Linked DNA regions of Homo sapiens. The protein of the gene in region 1 interacts with the protein of each later gene in a pairwise test. Each region holds a gene or a part of one and is shown on either strand. Other genes may lie near its edges.

What was found. Proteins that work in one complex are often made in the same cells at the same time.
Region 2: the proteins of alpha-crystallin A2 chain (region 1) and ADD1 interact in binary tests that used the Homo sapiens proteins (3 or more experiments, as listed by UniProt).

Annotation. Positions count from the first base shown.
Region 1 is NC_000021.9:6,561,596-6,564,989, reverse strand, and holds the end of alpha-crystallin A2 chain, read right to left. Parts: intron 3,071-3,394; exon of another isoform or gene 2,975-3,070; coding exon of another isoform or gene 2,897-2,974; intron 2,790-2,896; coding exon 2,667-2,789; intron 1,236-2,666; coding exon 1,026-1,235; 3' UTR 501-1,025; downstream 1-500. UniProt on the Homo sapiens protein: Contributes to the transparency and refractive index of the lens. In its oxidized form (absence of intramolecular disulfide bond), acts as a chaperone, preventing aggregation of various proteins under a wide range of stress conditions.
Region 2 is NC_000004.12:2,846,844-2,850,343, reverse strand, and holds part of ADD1 (alpha-adducin), read right to left. Parts: intron 1-3,500. UniProt on the Homo sapiens protein: Membrane-cytoskeleton-associated protein that promotes the assembly of the spectrin-actin network. Binds to calmodulin.

The DNA of each region.
Region 1 (3,394 bases):
CCTCCAGCTCGGGGCCATGATGGGTTGCCCAGGGGAAGCTGCCGAGTTCCAGCTCCTCAAAAGCACGAGTGCCCTTAAAGCCCAGCCCCGAAGGCAGCAGGACCCCCGAGAGAACAGGACGACCCAGCAGACCCCGAGAGAACCGGACGGCCCCGCAGAAGGAGGCCAGGGCTGGCGTCCCGCCCCGGTGCCGGCGCGGACAGAGAAAGGAGCCCGGCCTCCCTCCATTCCCTGCAGCCCCTTCCAGGTCCCTCCCCGCCCCCAGCTCTCGGAACCGCTCCCCAGTCCCTTTCCCATCAGAGGCTCTGCCCCCAAAACCTCTCCTTCCAGCCCAGTGTGGAGGGAGGCGCTTGAGCTCAGGAGAAGGAAGGGACGCAGGCGACCCCATCGTTCCGAGGCCACCGGGTCCAACGCGAGCAGGAGACCCCGCTGTCCTCCCTCCCGGCGCCGCCCTCCTGCCCCTCGCGCCCCTGATGGAGACAGCACCAGCAGACGGCGGGTTGCTTGTATCACCTGCTGTTTATTGATTGCCGCGGGCTGCGCTCTCATGGGCGACCCATGTCCCCAAGAGCGGCACTACATAGAGGGGTTGGAGGAAGACGGTCTGAGAGAAGAGGCCGCGAGAGCCCAGGTGCACAGAAGCCCCGGCCCCACGGGCCTCACGCGCCCCAGGAGGTGTGGGCAGGGCCCGCCGCGGAGGGAGGCTGCAGGTGTGTCAGGAGGCACCTGGCCGGAGGTCACCCCCTCCTTCTGGACCCTCAGCAGAGTTGAGGCGCCTGCACCCCAGGGGAGCCAGGCTGCTATCTAAAGGAGTGTGAGGTGCGGTCACTTCCGCCACTGGCCGGTGTCGGGGTCTGGGACACCCTGAGACCCTAAGCTCTCCTGGCTGCTCTCTCAAACCCTCATTCCATGTGAGAAGGTGGAAAGGAAAAAAGGGAAGCAAAGGAAGACAGACACCCCGCCCTCAGGGTGCTCCCCCCATGATGGGCCAGGGCTGCAGGGGAGCCAGCCGAGGCAATGCCTGCTTAGGACGAGGGAGCCGAGGTGGGCTTCTCCTCCCGCGACACGGGGATGGCTCGCTCGGCGTGGGTGGCATCCAGGCCAGTCTGGATCTTGGGGCCACAGAAGGTCAGCATGCCATCGGCAGACAGGGAGCAAGAGAGGGCCGACTGGTCCACGTTGGACGGCAGGCGGTAGCGGCGGTGGAACTCACGGGAAATGTAGCCGTGGTCGTCCTGGAGAGGGTGGGGGCGCACAGTCAGGGGGGCCACTGTGCAGGCGGCTGCCTCGCCCCATGCCAGAGAAGCTGCCCCAGCCCCACTGACTGCAGAAGGGGGCCAGCCTGCGGGGGCTCTCACAGGGGCCGGGTGCAGCCAGCACATCCCATGGCCAGGCCCCCTGGGATTTATGGATTCATGCCCCTGCTTCTCTGGACCTCAGCCTGGCCTCGTGGCCACTTGCCGGGCTATTCCCCGCGGGGGGTTGTCTCTTCCCGCTCCATGGCTTCACTCCAAAATCGCAGGATCATTCCAGACCAGGCCCCGCACCTCAGCCAGTCTTCCCCTTCCAGACCCCGCAGGACTGCTCTAGCCCAGGTCTCTGCAGCCCTACCTAATGTGGCCAGACGACCCACATGCTTCCACGTCCCCTGGACGCCCTAAACCGCAGACTCAGCTCCCTGGGCTGACCTCCTCCTCCACTGGGTGCAAAGACCAAGAGCTGGGAGCTCAGGAAGCATGTTCCAGGCTGGCTGGGGCTACGTGGGGGCTTTACCGGGCCCAGGCGAGGGAGGGGCAGCACATGAGGAGGTCAGCGTTCACCCCCCAGCACCACCTTCTCCAGCCATTGAAAGAGGACCCTGGCCAAAAGAAACCAAGACTTTGGCTAAGAGTTCCACCTTCCAGCCCCACTCTGCTCTCCAGCCCCCGCGGGGCACTGTCCATCTGTGACAGTCCATGAGCTCTTCCCGGCTCCGCCAGGAGATGCAGGTCACCAGGGCTCCAGTGCCCCGGCTCCCTCAACACCACGGAGATCCGAGGCCTCCAGCCGAGCAAGAGCGGGGCATCAGGGTGACTGTGGGGAGAAGCTCCCGTCCACCTGCCCGGTACTAGCTGTGGGACCCAGCAGGCTGAGGACCCCCTTGTTCCCCAGCCGTGCCCTGGAATAATGAGGACACTGGTTCCAAAGTGCTGCTGTGAGGCGAAGGTGTCAATGCCTGTAAAGCATTCCAAGCGGATGCAGCTATGCCGTCGGGGACTGGCTTCCTCAGGTAGGGTTCATGTGAAGATGTACACTGGCTAGGAGGCGGCCACCCGGGGCACTCCCACTTCCTGGGGTTCTTTCTAAGACCACCCTGGCATCCAGGTGACAGGGATGGAGCTGGCGACGGCTGGGTGCAGCCCGGGAAGGGACCCTAACCTGGATCCCTGAGCCACATTAGCTCGGGAATGGTGACCTCTGTCACCGGGAGGGGCTGGCTGTGCTCAGGTGGGCACGGCCCCTCCCTTGGGGAAAAGCCAGGCCTGATTCGGGGTCCCCTGGAGAGCGTCCCTCTCCCAGGGTTGAAGGCATGGTGCAGGTGTGCAGGCCCGGTCGTGCCCGCCGTGACCCCCTTGTCCTCGCGCCCAACTCGCCCCCCTCTCCCACCTCTCAGTGCCTGGGCTCACCTGGCGCTCGTTGTGCTTTCCGTGGATCTCCACAAAGTCGTCCTGCACCTTCACGGTGAGGTCCTCCGGGGAGAAGTGCTTCACATCGAGGAAGATGACGAACTTGTCCCGGTCGGATCGAACCTGAAATCCAAACGTGCCATGTGGAGCTGCCCAGAGGGTGCCGTCCCTGCTGGGGTTGGCAGAGACAGGGCGGGTCCCGGTTATCAGAACAGAGATGCTTCGGTCACCTGCCGGCCTCTTCTCCCACACACCAAGTGGGGCAGAGCTTTCGGGGGCCTGTGACTGTCTCCTGGACAGACAGGCATGACCCTCGACCTGTCTCCAAACCCTCAGGGCCAGCTGAGGGGCTGAATGCTACTGGTGGGCCGGCTGGTTGTTTGGCTATGGTCAGGTGGCTGGTTATAGATAAGTTGGCTGGTTATGGGCTGGCTGGCTACTGGTTATGGTAGGAGGGGTCGTTACGGGTTGGTTGGTCCGTTAGGGTCAATCGTCTGGCTGGTGATGCTTGGCTGGCTGGCTGGACTCAGCCTGTGGAATGAGGTCACTGCCCTTGGTGTCATGCTGTCTATAGAAGCGGCCGGAGCCTGCTGACAGCCTGCGCAGCTGCCTCTCCAAAACGCACTTCCACATGCTCCTTCTCACTCCCCTGGCTCAGCCTTGGCTCCCTGAGGCATTTTGCACCCTGGCATTGATGCCTACTGCAGCAGCCCTGGGGAGGACCCTGT
Region 2 (3,500 bases), on another chromosome or scaffold:
GTGAGCCAAGATCGCACCACTGCACTCCAGCCTGGGCAAGAGAGTGAGATTCAGTCTCACAAAAAACAAAAAACAAAAAGATTTGCCTATTGAAGACATTTCACATAAGTAAAATCATGAAGCACATGGTCTCTTGTGTCTGGCTTCTTCCACTTAGCATGTTTTCAGAGTTCATCCATGTTGTACCAGGTATGAGTGCTTCAATCCTTTCTATTGCCAACTACTATTCCATCGTATGAACAGACCACATTTTGTTGATCCACTCATTAGCTGATGGACATCTGGGGTGTTTCACTTTTTGTCTGTTAAACATAATGCTGCTCTGAACATTCACACACAAGCTTTTGTACGGACATATGTTTTCACTTGGCCTTTGCATTCTCAAAGTGTTTTCACAACATTCTCTCTTTCATGTATTACATGGCTACTTAATTTTCCGATGGAGAAAAGTGAGGCTTGGGGCAGCTAAGTGACTTTCTCACCCACTCAACTACCCTCAGCAAACCACAGTAAACCCATAGTGAAGAGCCAGTACTCCTTTCATAATACCACACTGCCTATGGTTACGGCTCCCTCTCCTGTGAAATAAATTTCAAGCGACAGTGTGCAGATGAGGGAAAACATTTTTTAGGTAAGGAACTCCCTAAATCATTCTCAATACGTTAATCCACAAAGCAAATTTAAATTAAGCCCTTCAGAGTAAGAGAAGGAGAGAAGTGTTTGGGATGGGATATTCTAAAGGTCCCTCCCAAATGATGACTTTCTCCTCCCCATGCAAACAGCCACAGCTGCCATTCCAGGCTGCAGAGGCACACATGTAGTTACATCTACTGCGCCCCATTCCTGAGGCATGCCCTTTCCAGCAAATTTGAGATATACCTGTGGACTCTGTCCCCTAACGTCAGCCCCAGATGCCAGACTCCCTGGGCCCAAGGCCTAGATGCAGAGCTCGTCTGTTCTAATACAGATAACAGTATTTTGGAGGCATATATTGCTCAGATCAATTGTATGAACCCTCTTTCCCAACCTCATGAAGCACTGTCTAGGTTTATAATATTTCTGGTAATAAAGTTCAGAAAAAAACAATAATTATATTAATAATATAAGTCATTTGCTGACAGCTTAGTAGGTACCTTTTGGCATTTACTTCATTTAATCCTCACAATAACCATGTAAGATAGGGACTATTGTTACTTTAGTGTCCATACTTAATTATGTGGAGAAAATACACAGTTGGTAGGAGTATAAACCAACGTAACTTCTTAGGAGGATAATCTGGAAACATCTACGGAAAGTAAAAGTGTAATTACTCTTTGACATGGCAATCTCACTTCTGAGAATGTATCTATAGATATACTTCATAGGTGCCCAAAGATGGAAATGTAAGAATATTAATTGGGGCCAGGAGGGTAATTTGGAAATGTCTATGCAAATGAAAAGTGCAATTATTCTTTGACATAGCAATTTCATTTCTGAGAATGTATTTATAGATGTACCTCATAAGTGCCCAATATGGAGATGTAATATTAATTGGAGCACTGCTTATAACAGTAAAAACCTGGAAACAGGTCAGGTGCAGTGACTCATGCCTGTTATCCTAGCATATTCAGAGGCTGAGACAGGAGGATCACTTGAGACCAGGAATTCAAGACCAGCCTGAGCAACACAGCTCAGGCTTTTGAAACCTTATCTCAAAAAAAAAAAAAAATTAGCCAAGCCTGTTGGCATGAACCTGCAGTCTTAGCTACTTCAGAGTCAGAGGTGGGAGAATGGCTTAAGCCCAGGAGTTCAAGGCTGCGGCAAACTATGATCACATCACTATATTCCCGCCTAGGTGACAGAGCAAGAGTCTGTCTCAAAAAAAATAAATTAATTAAATAAATATATGCTCAACATGTTTAAGCTGACAGTTATCAAAAACAGTGTTACACATTAGTTATAACAACTGTTTAAAAAGGTACTTCTAGAAAAATTAAGCTCAAAAGGCAAACTGTATTAAATGTGCTTCCCCTCATTCCTTTAAACTCAAGGTTCCTCAATGTAGAAAGGCCAGAATAAGCATTAACAATTAAACAACTCTATTAAAGTTTAATATTATGCTATGTTAAGATTCCTATTTTTTTTTTTTTTTGAGACGGAGTCTCACTCTGTCCCAGGCTGGAATGCAATGGCACGATCTCAACTCACTGTAACCTCCGCCTCCTGGGTTCAAGTGATTCTCCCGCCTCAGCCTCTTGAGTACCTGGGATTACAGGCATCCACCACCAAGCCTGACTAATTTTTGTATTTTTAGTAGAGACAGGGTTTCATCATGCTGGCCAGGCTGGCCTCGAACTCCTGATCTCAGGTGATCCACCTGCCTCGGCCTCCCAAAGTGCTGGGATTACAGACGTGAGCCACCATGCCCAGCCTTGCCTCCCACTCTATTCAAAGTCATCCCTTTGCTCACTGAGATAGATGCATATCTGGTTGCCTCCTTAGGAAAGGCTTATCAGAAACTCAAAAGAAGGCAACCATTTGTCTCTCACCTACTTGTGACCTGGAAGCTCCCTCCCTGCTTCAAGCTGTCCCCGCCGTTCTGGACTGAACCAATGTACTTCTAGCATATATTGATTGATGTCTCATGTCTCCTTAAAATGTATAAAACCAAGCTGTGCCCAACCACCTTGGGCACATGTCAATCAGGACTTCTGGAGGCTGTGTCACAGGCACACATTCTCAACACTAGCAAAATAAACTTTCTAAGTTAACCGAGACCTGTCTCAAATTTTCGAGGTTCACGTGTTCATCTTGTTCTGAGACTGAAATGTGTACGGTGTGGGTTGAAACAGTGAGCAAGTAGAACCAAAATGTTTGGCTTAGAAGAAAAGTAGATACAGGTATATAAAAATGAGAAGGTTGAGTAGAATCCTAGTCTTACTTCCTTTTTTTTTTTGAGACGGAGTTTCGCTTTTGTTGCCCAGAATGGAGTGCAATGGCACTGCGACCTCCGCCTCCTGGGTTCAAGCGATTCTCCTGCCTCAGCCTCCCTAGTAGTGGGGATTACAGGCATGCACCACCATGCCCAGCTAATTTTTGTATTTTTAGTAGAGATGAGGTTTCACTGTTGTCCAGGCTGGTCTCAAACTCCTGACCTCAGGCGATCCACCTGCCTCAGCCTCCCAAAGTGCCGGGATTGTGAGCGACCGCACCTAGCTTGTTTTTTGTTTTTGTTTTTGTTTTTTTGAGACGGAGTCTCGCTCCGTGTCGCCCAGGCTACAGTGCAACGGAGCGATCTCCACTCACTGCAAGCTCCGCCTCCCGGGTTCACGCCATTCTCCTGCCTCAGCCTCCCGAGTAGCTGGGACTACAGGCATCCGCCACCACGCCCAGCTAATTTTTTGCGTTTTTAGTAGAGACGGGATTTCACCATGTTAGCCAGGATGGTCTCGATCTCCTGACCTCATGATCCGCCCGCCTCGGCCTCCCAAAGTGCTGGGATTACAGGTGTGAGCCACCAC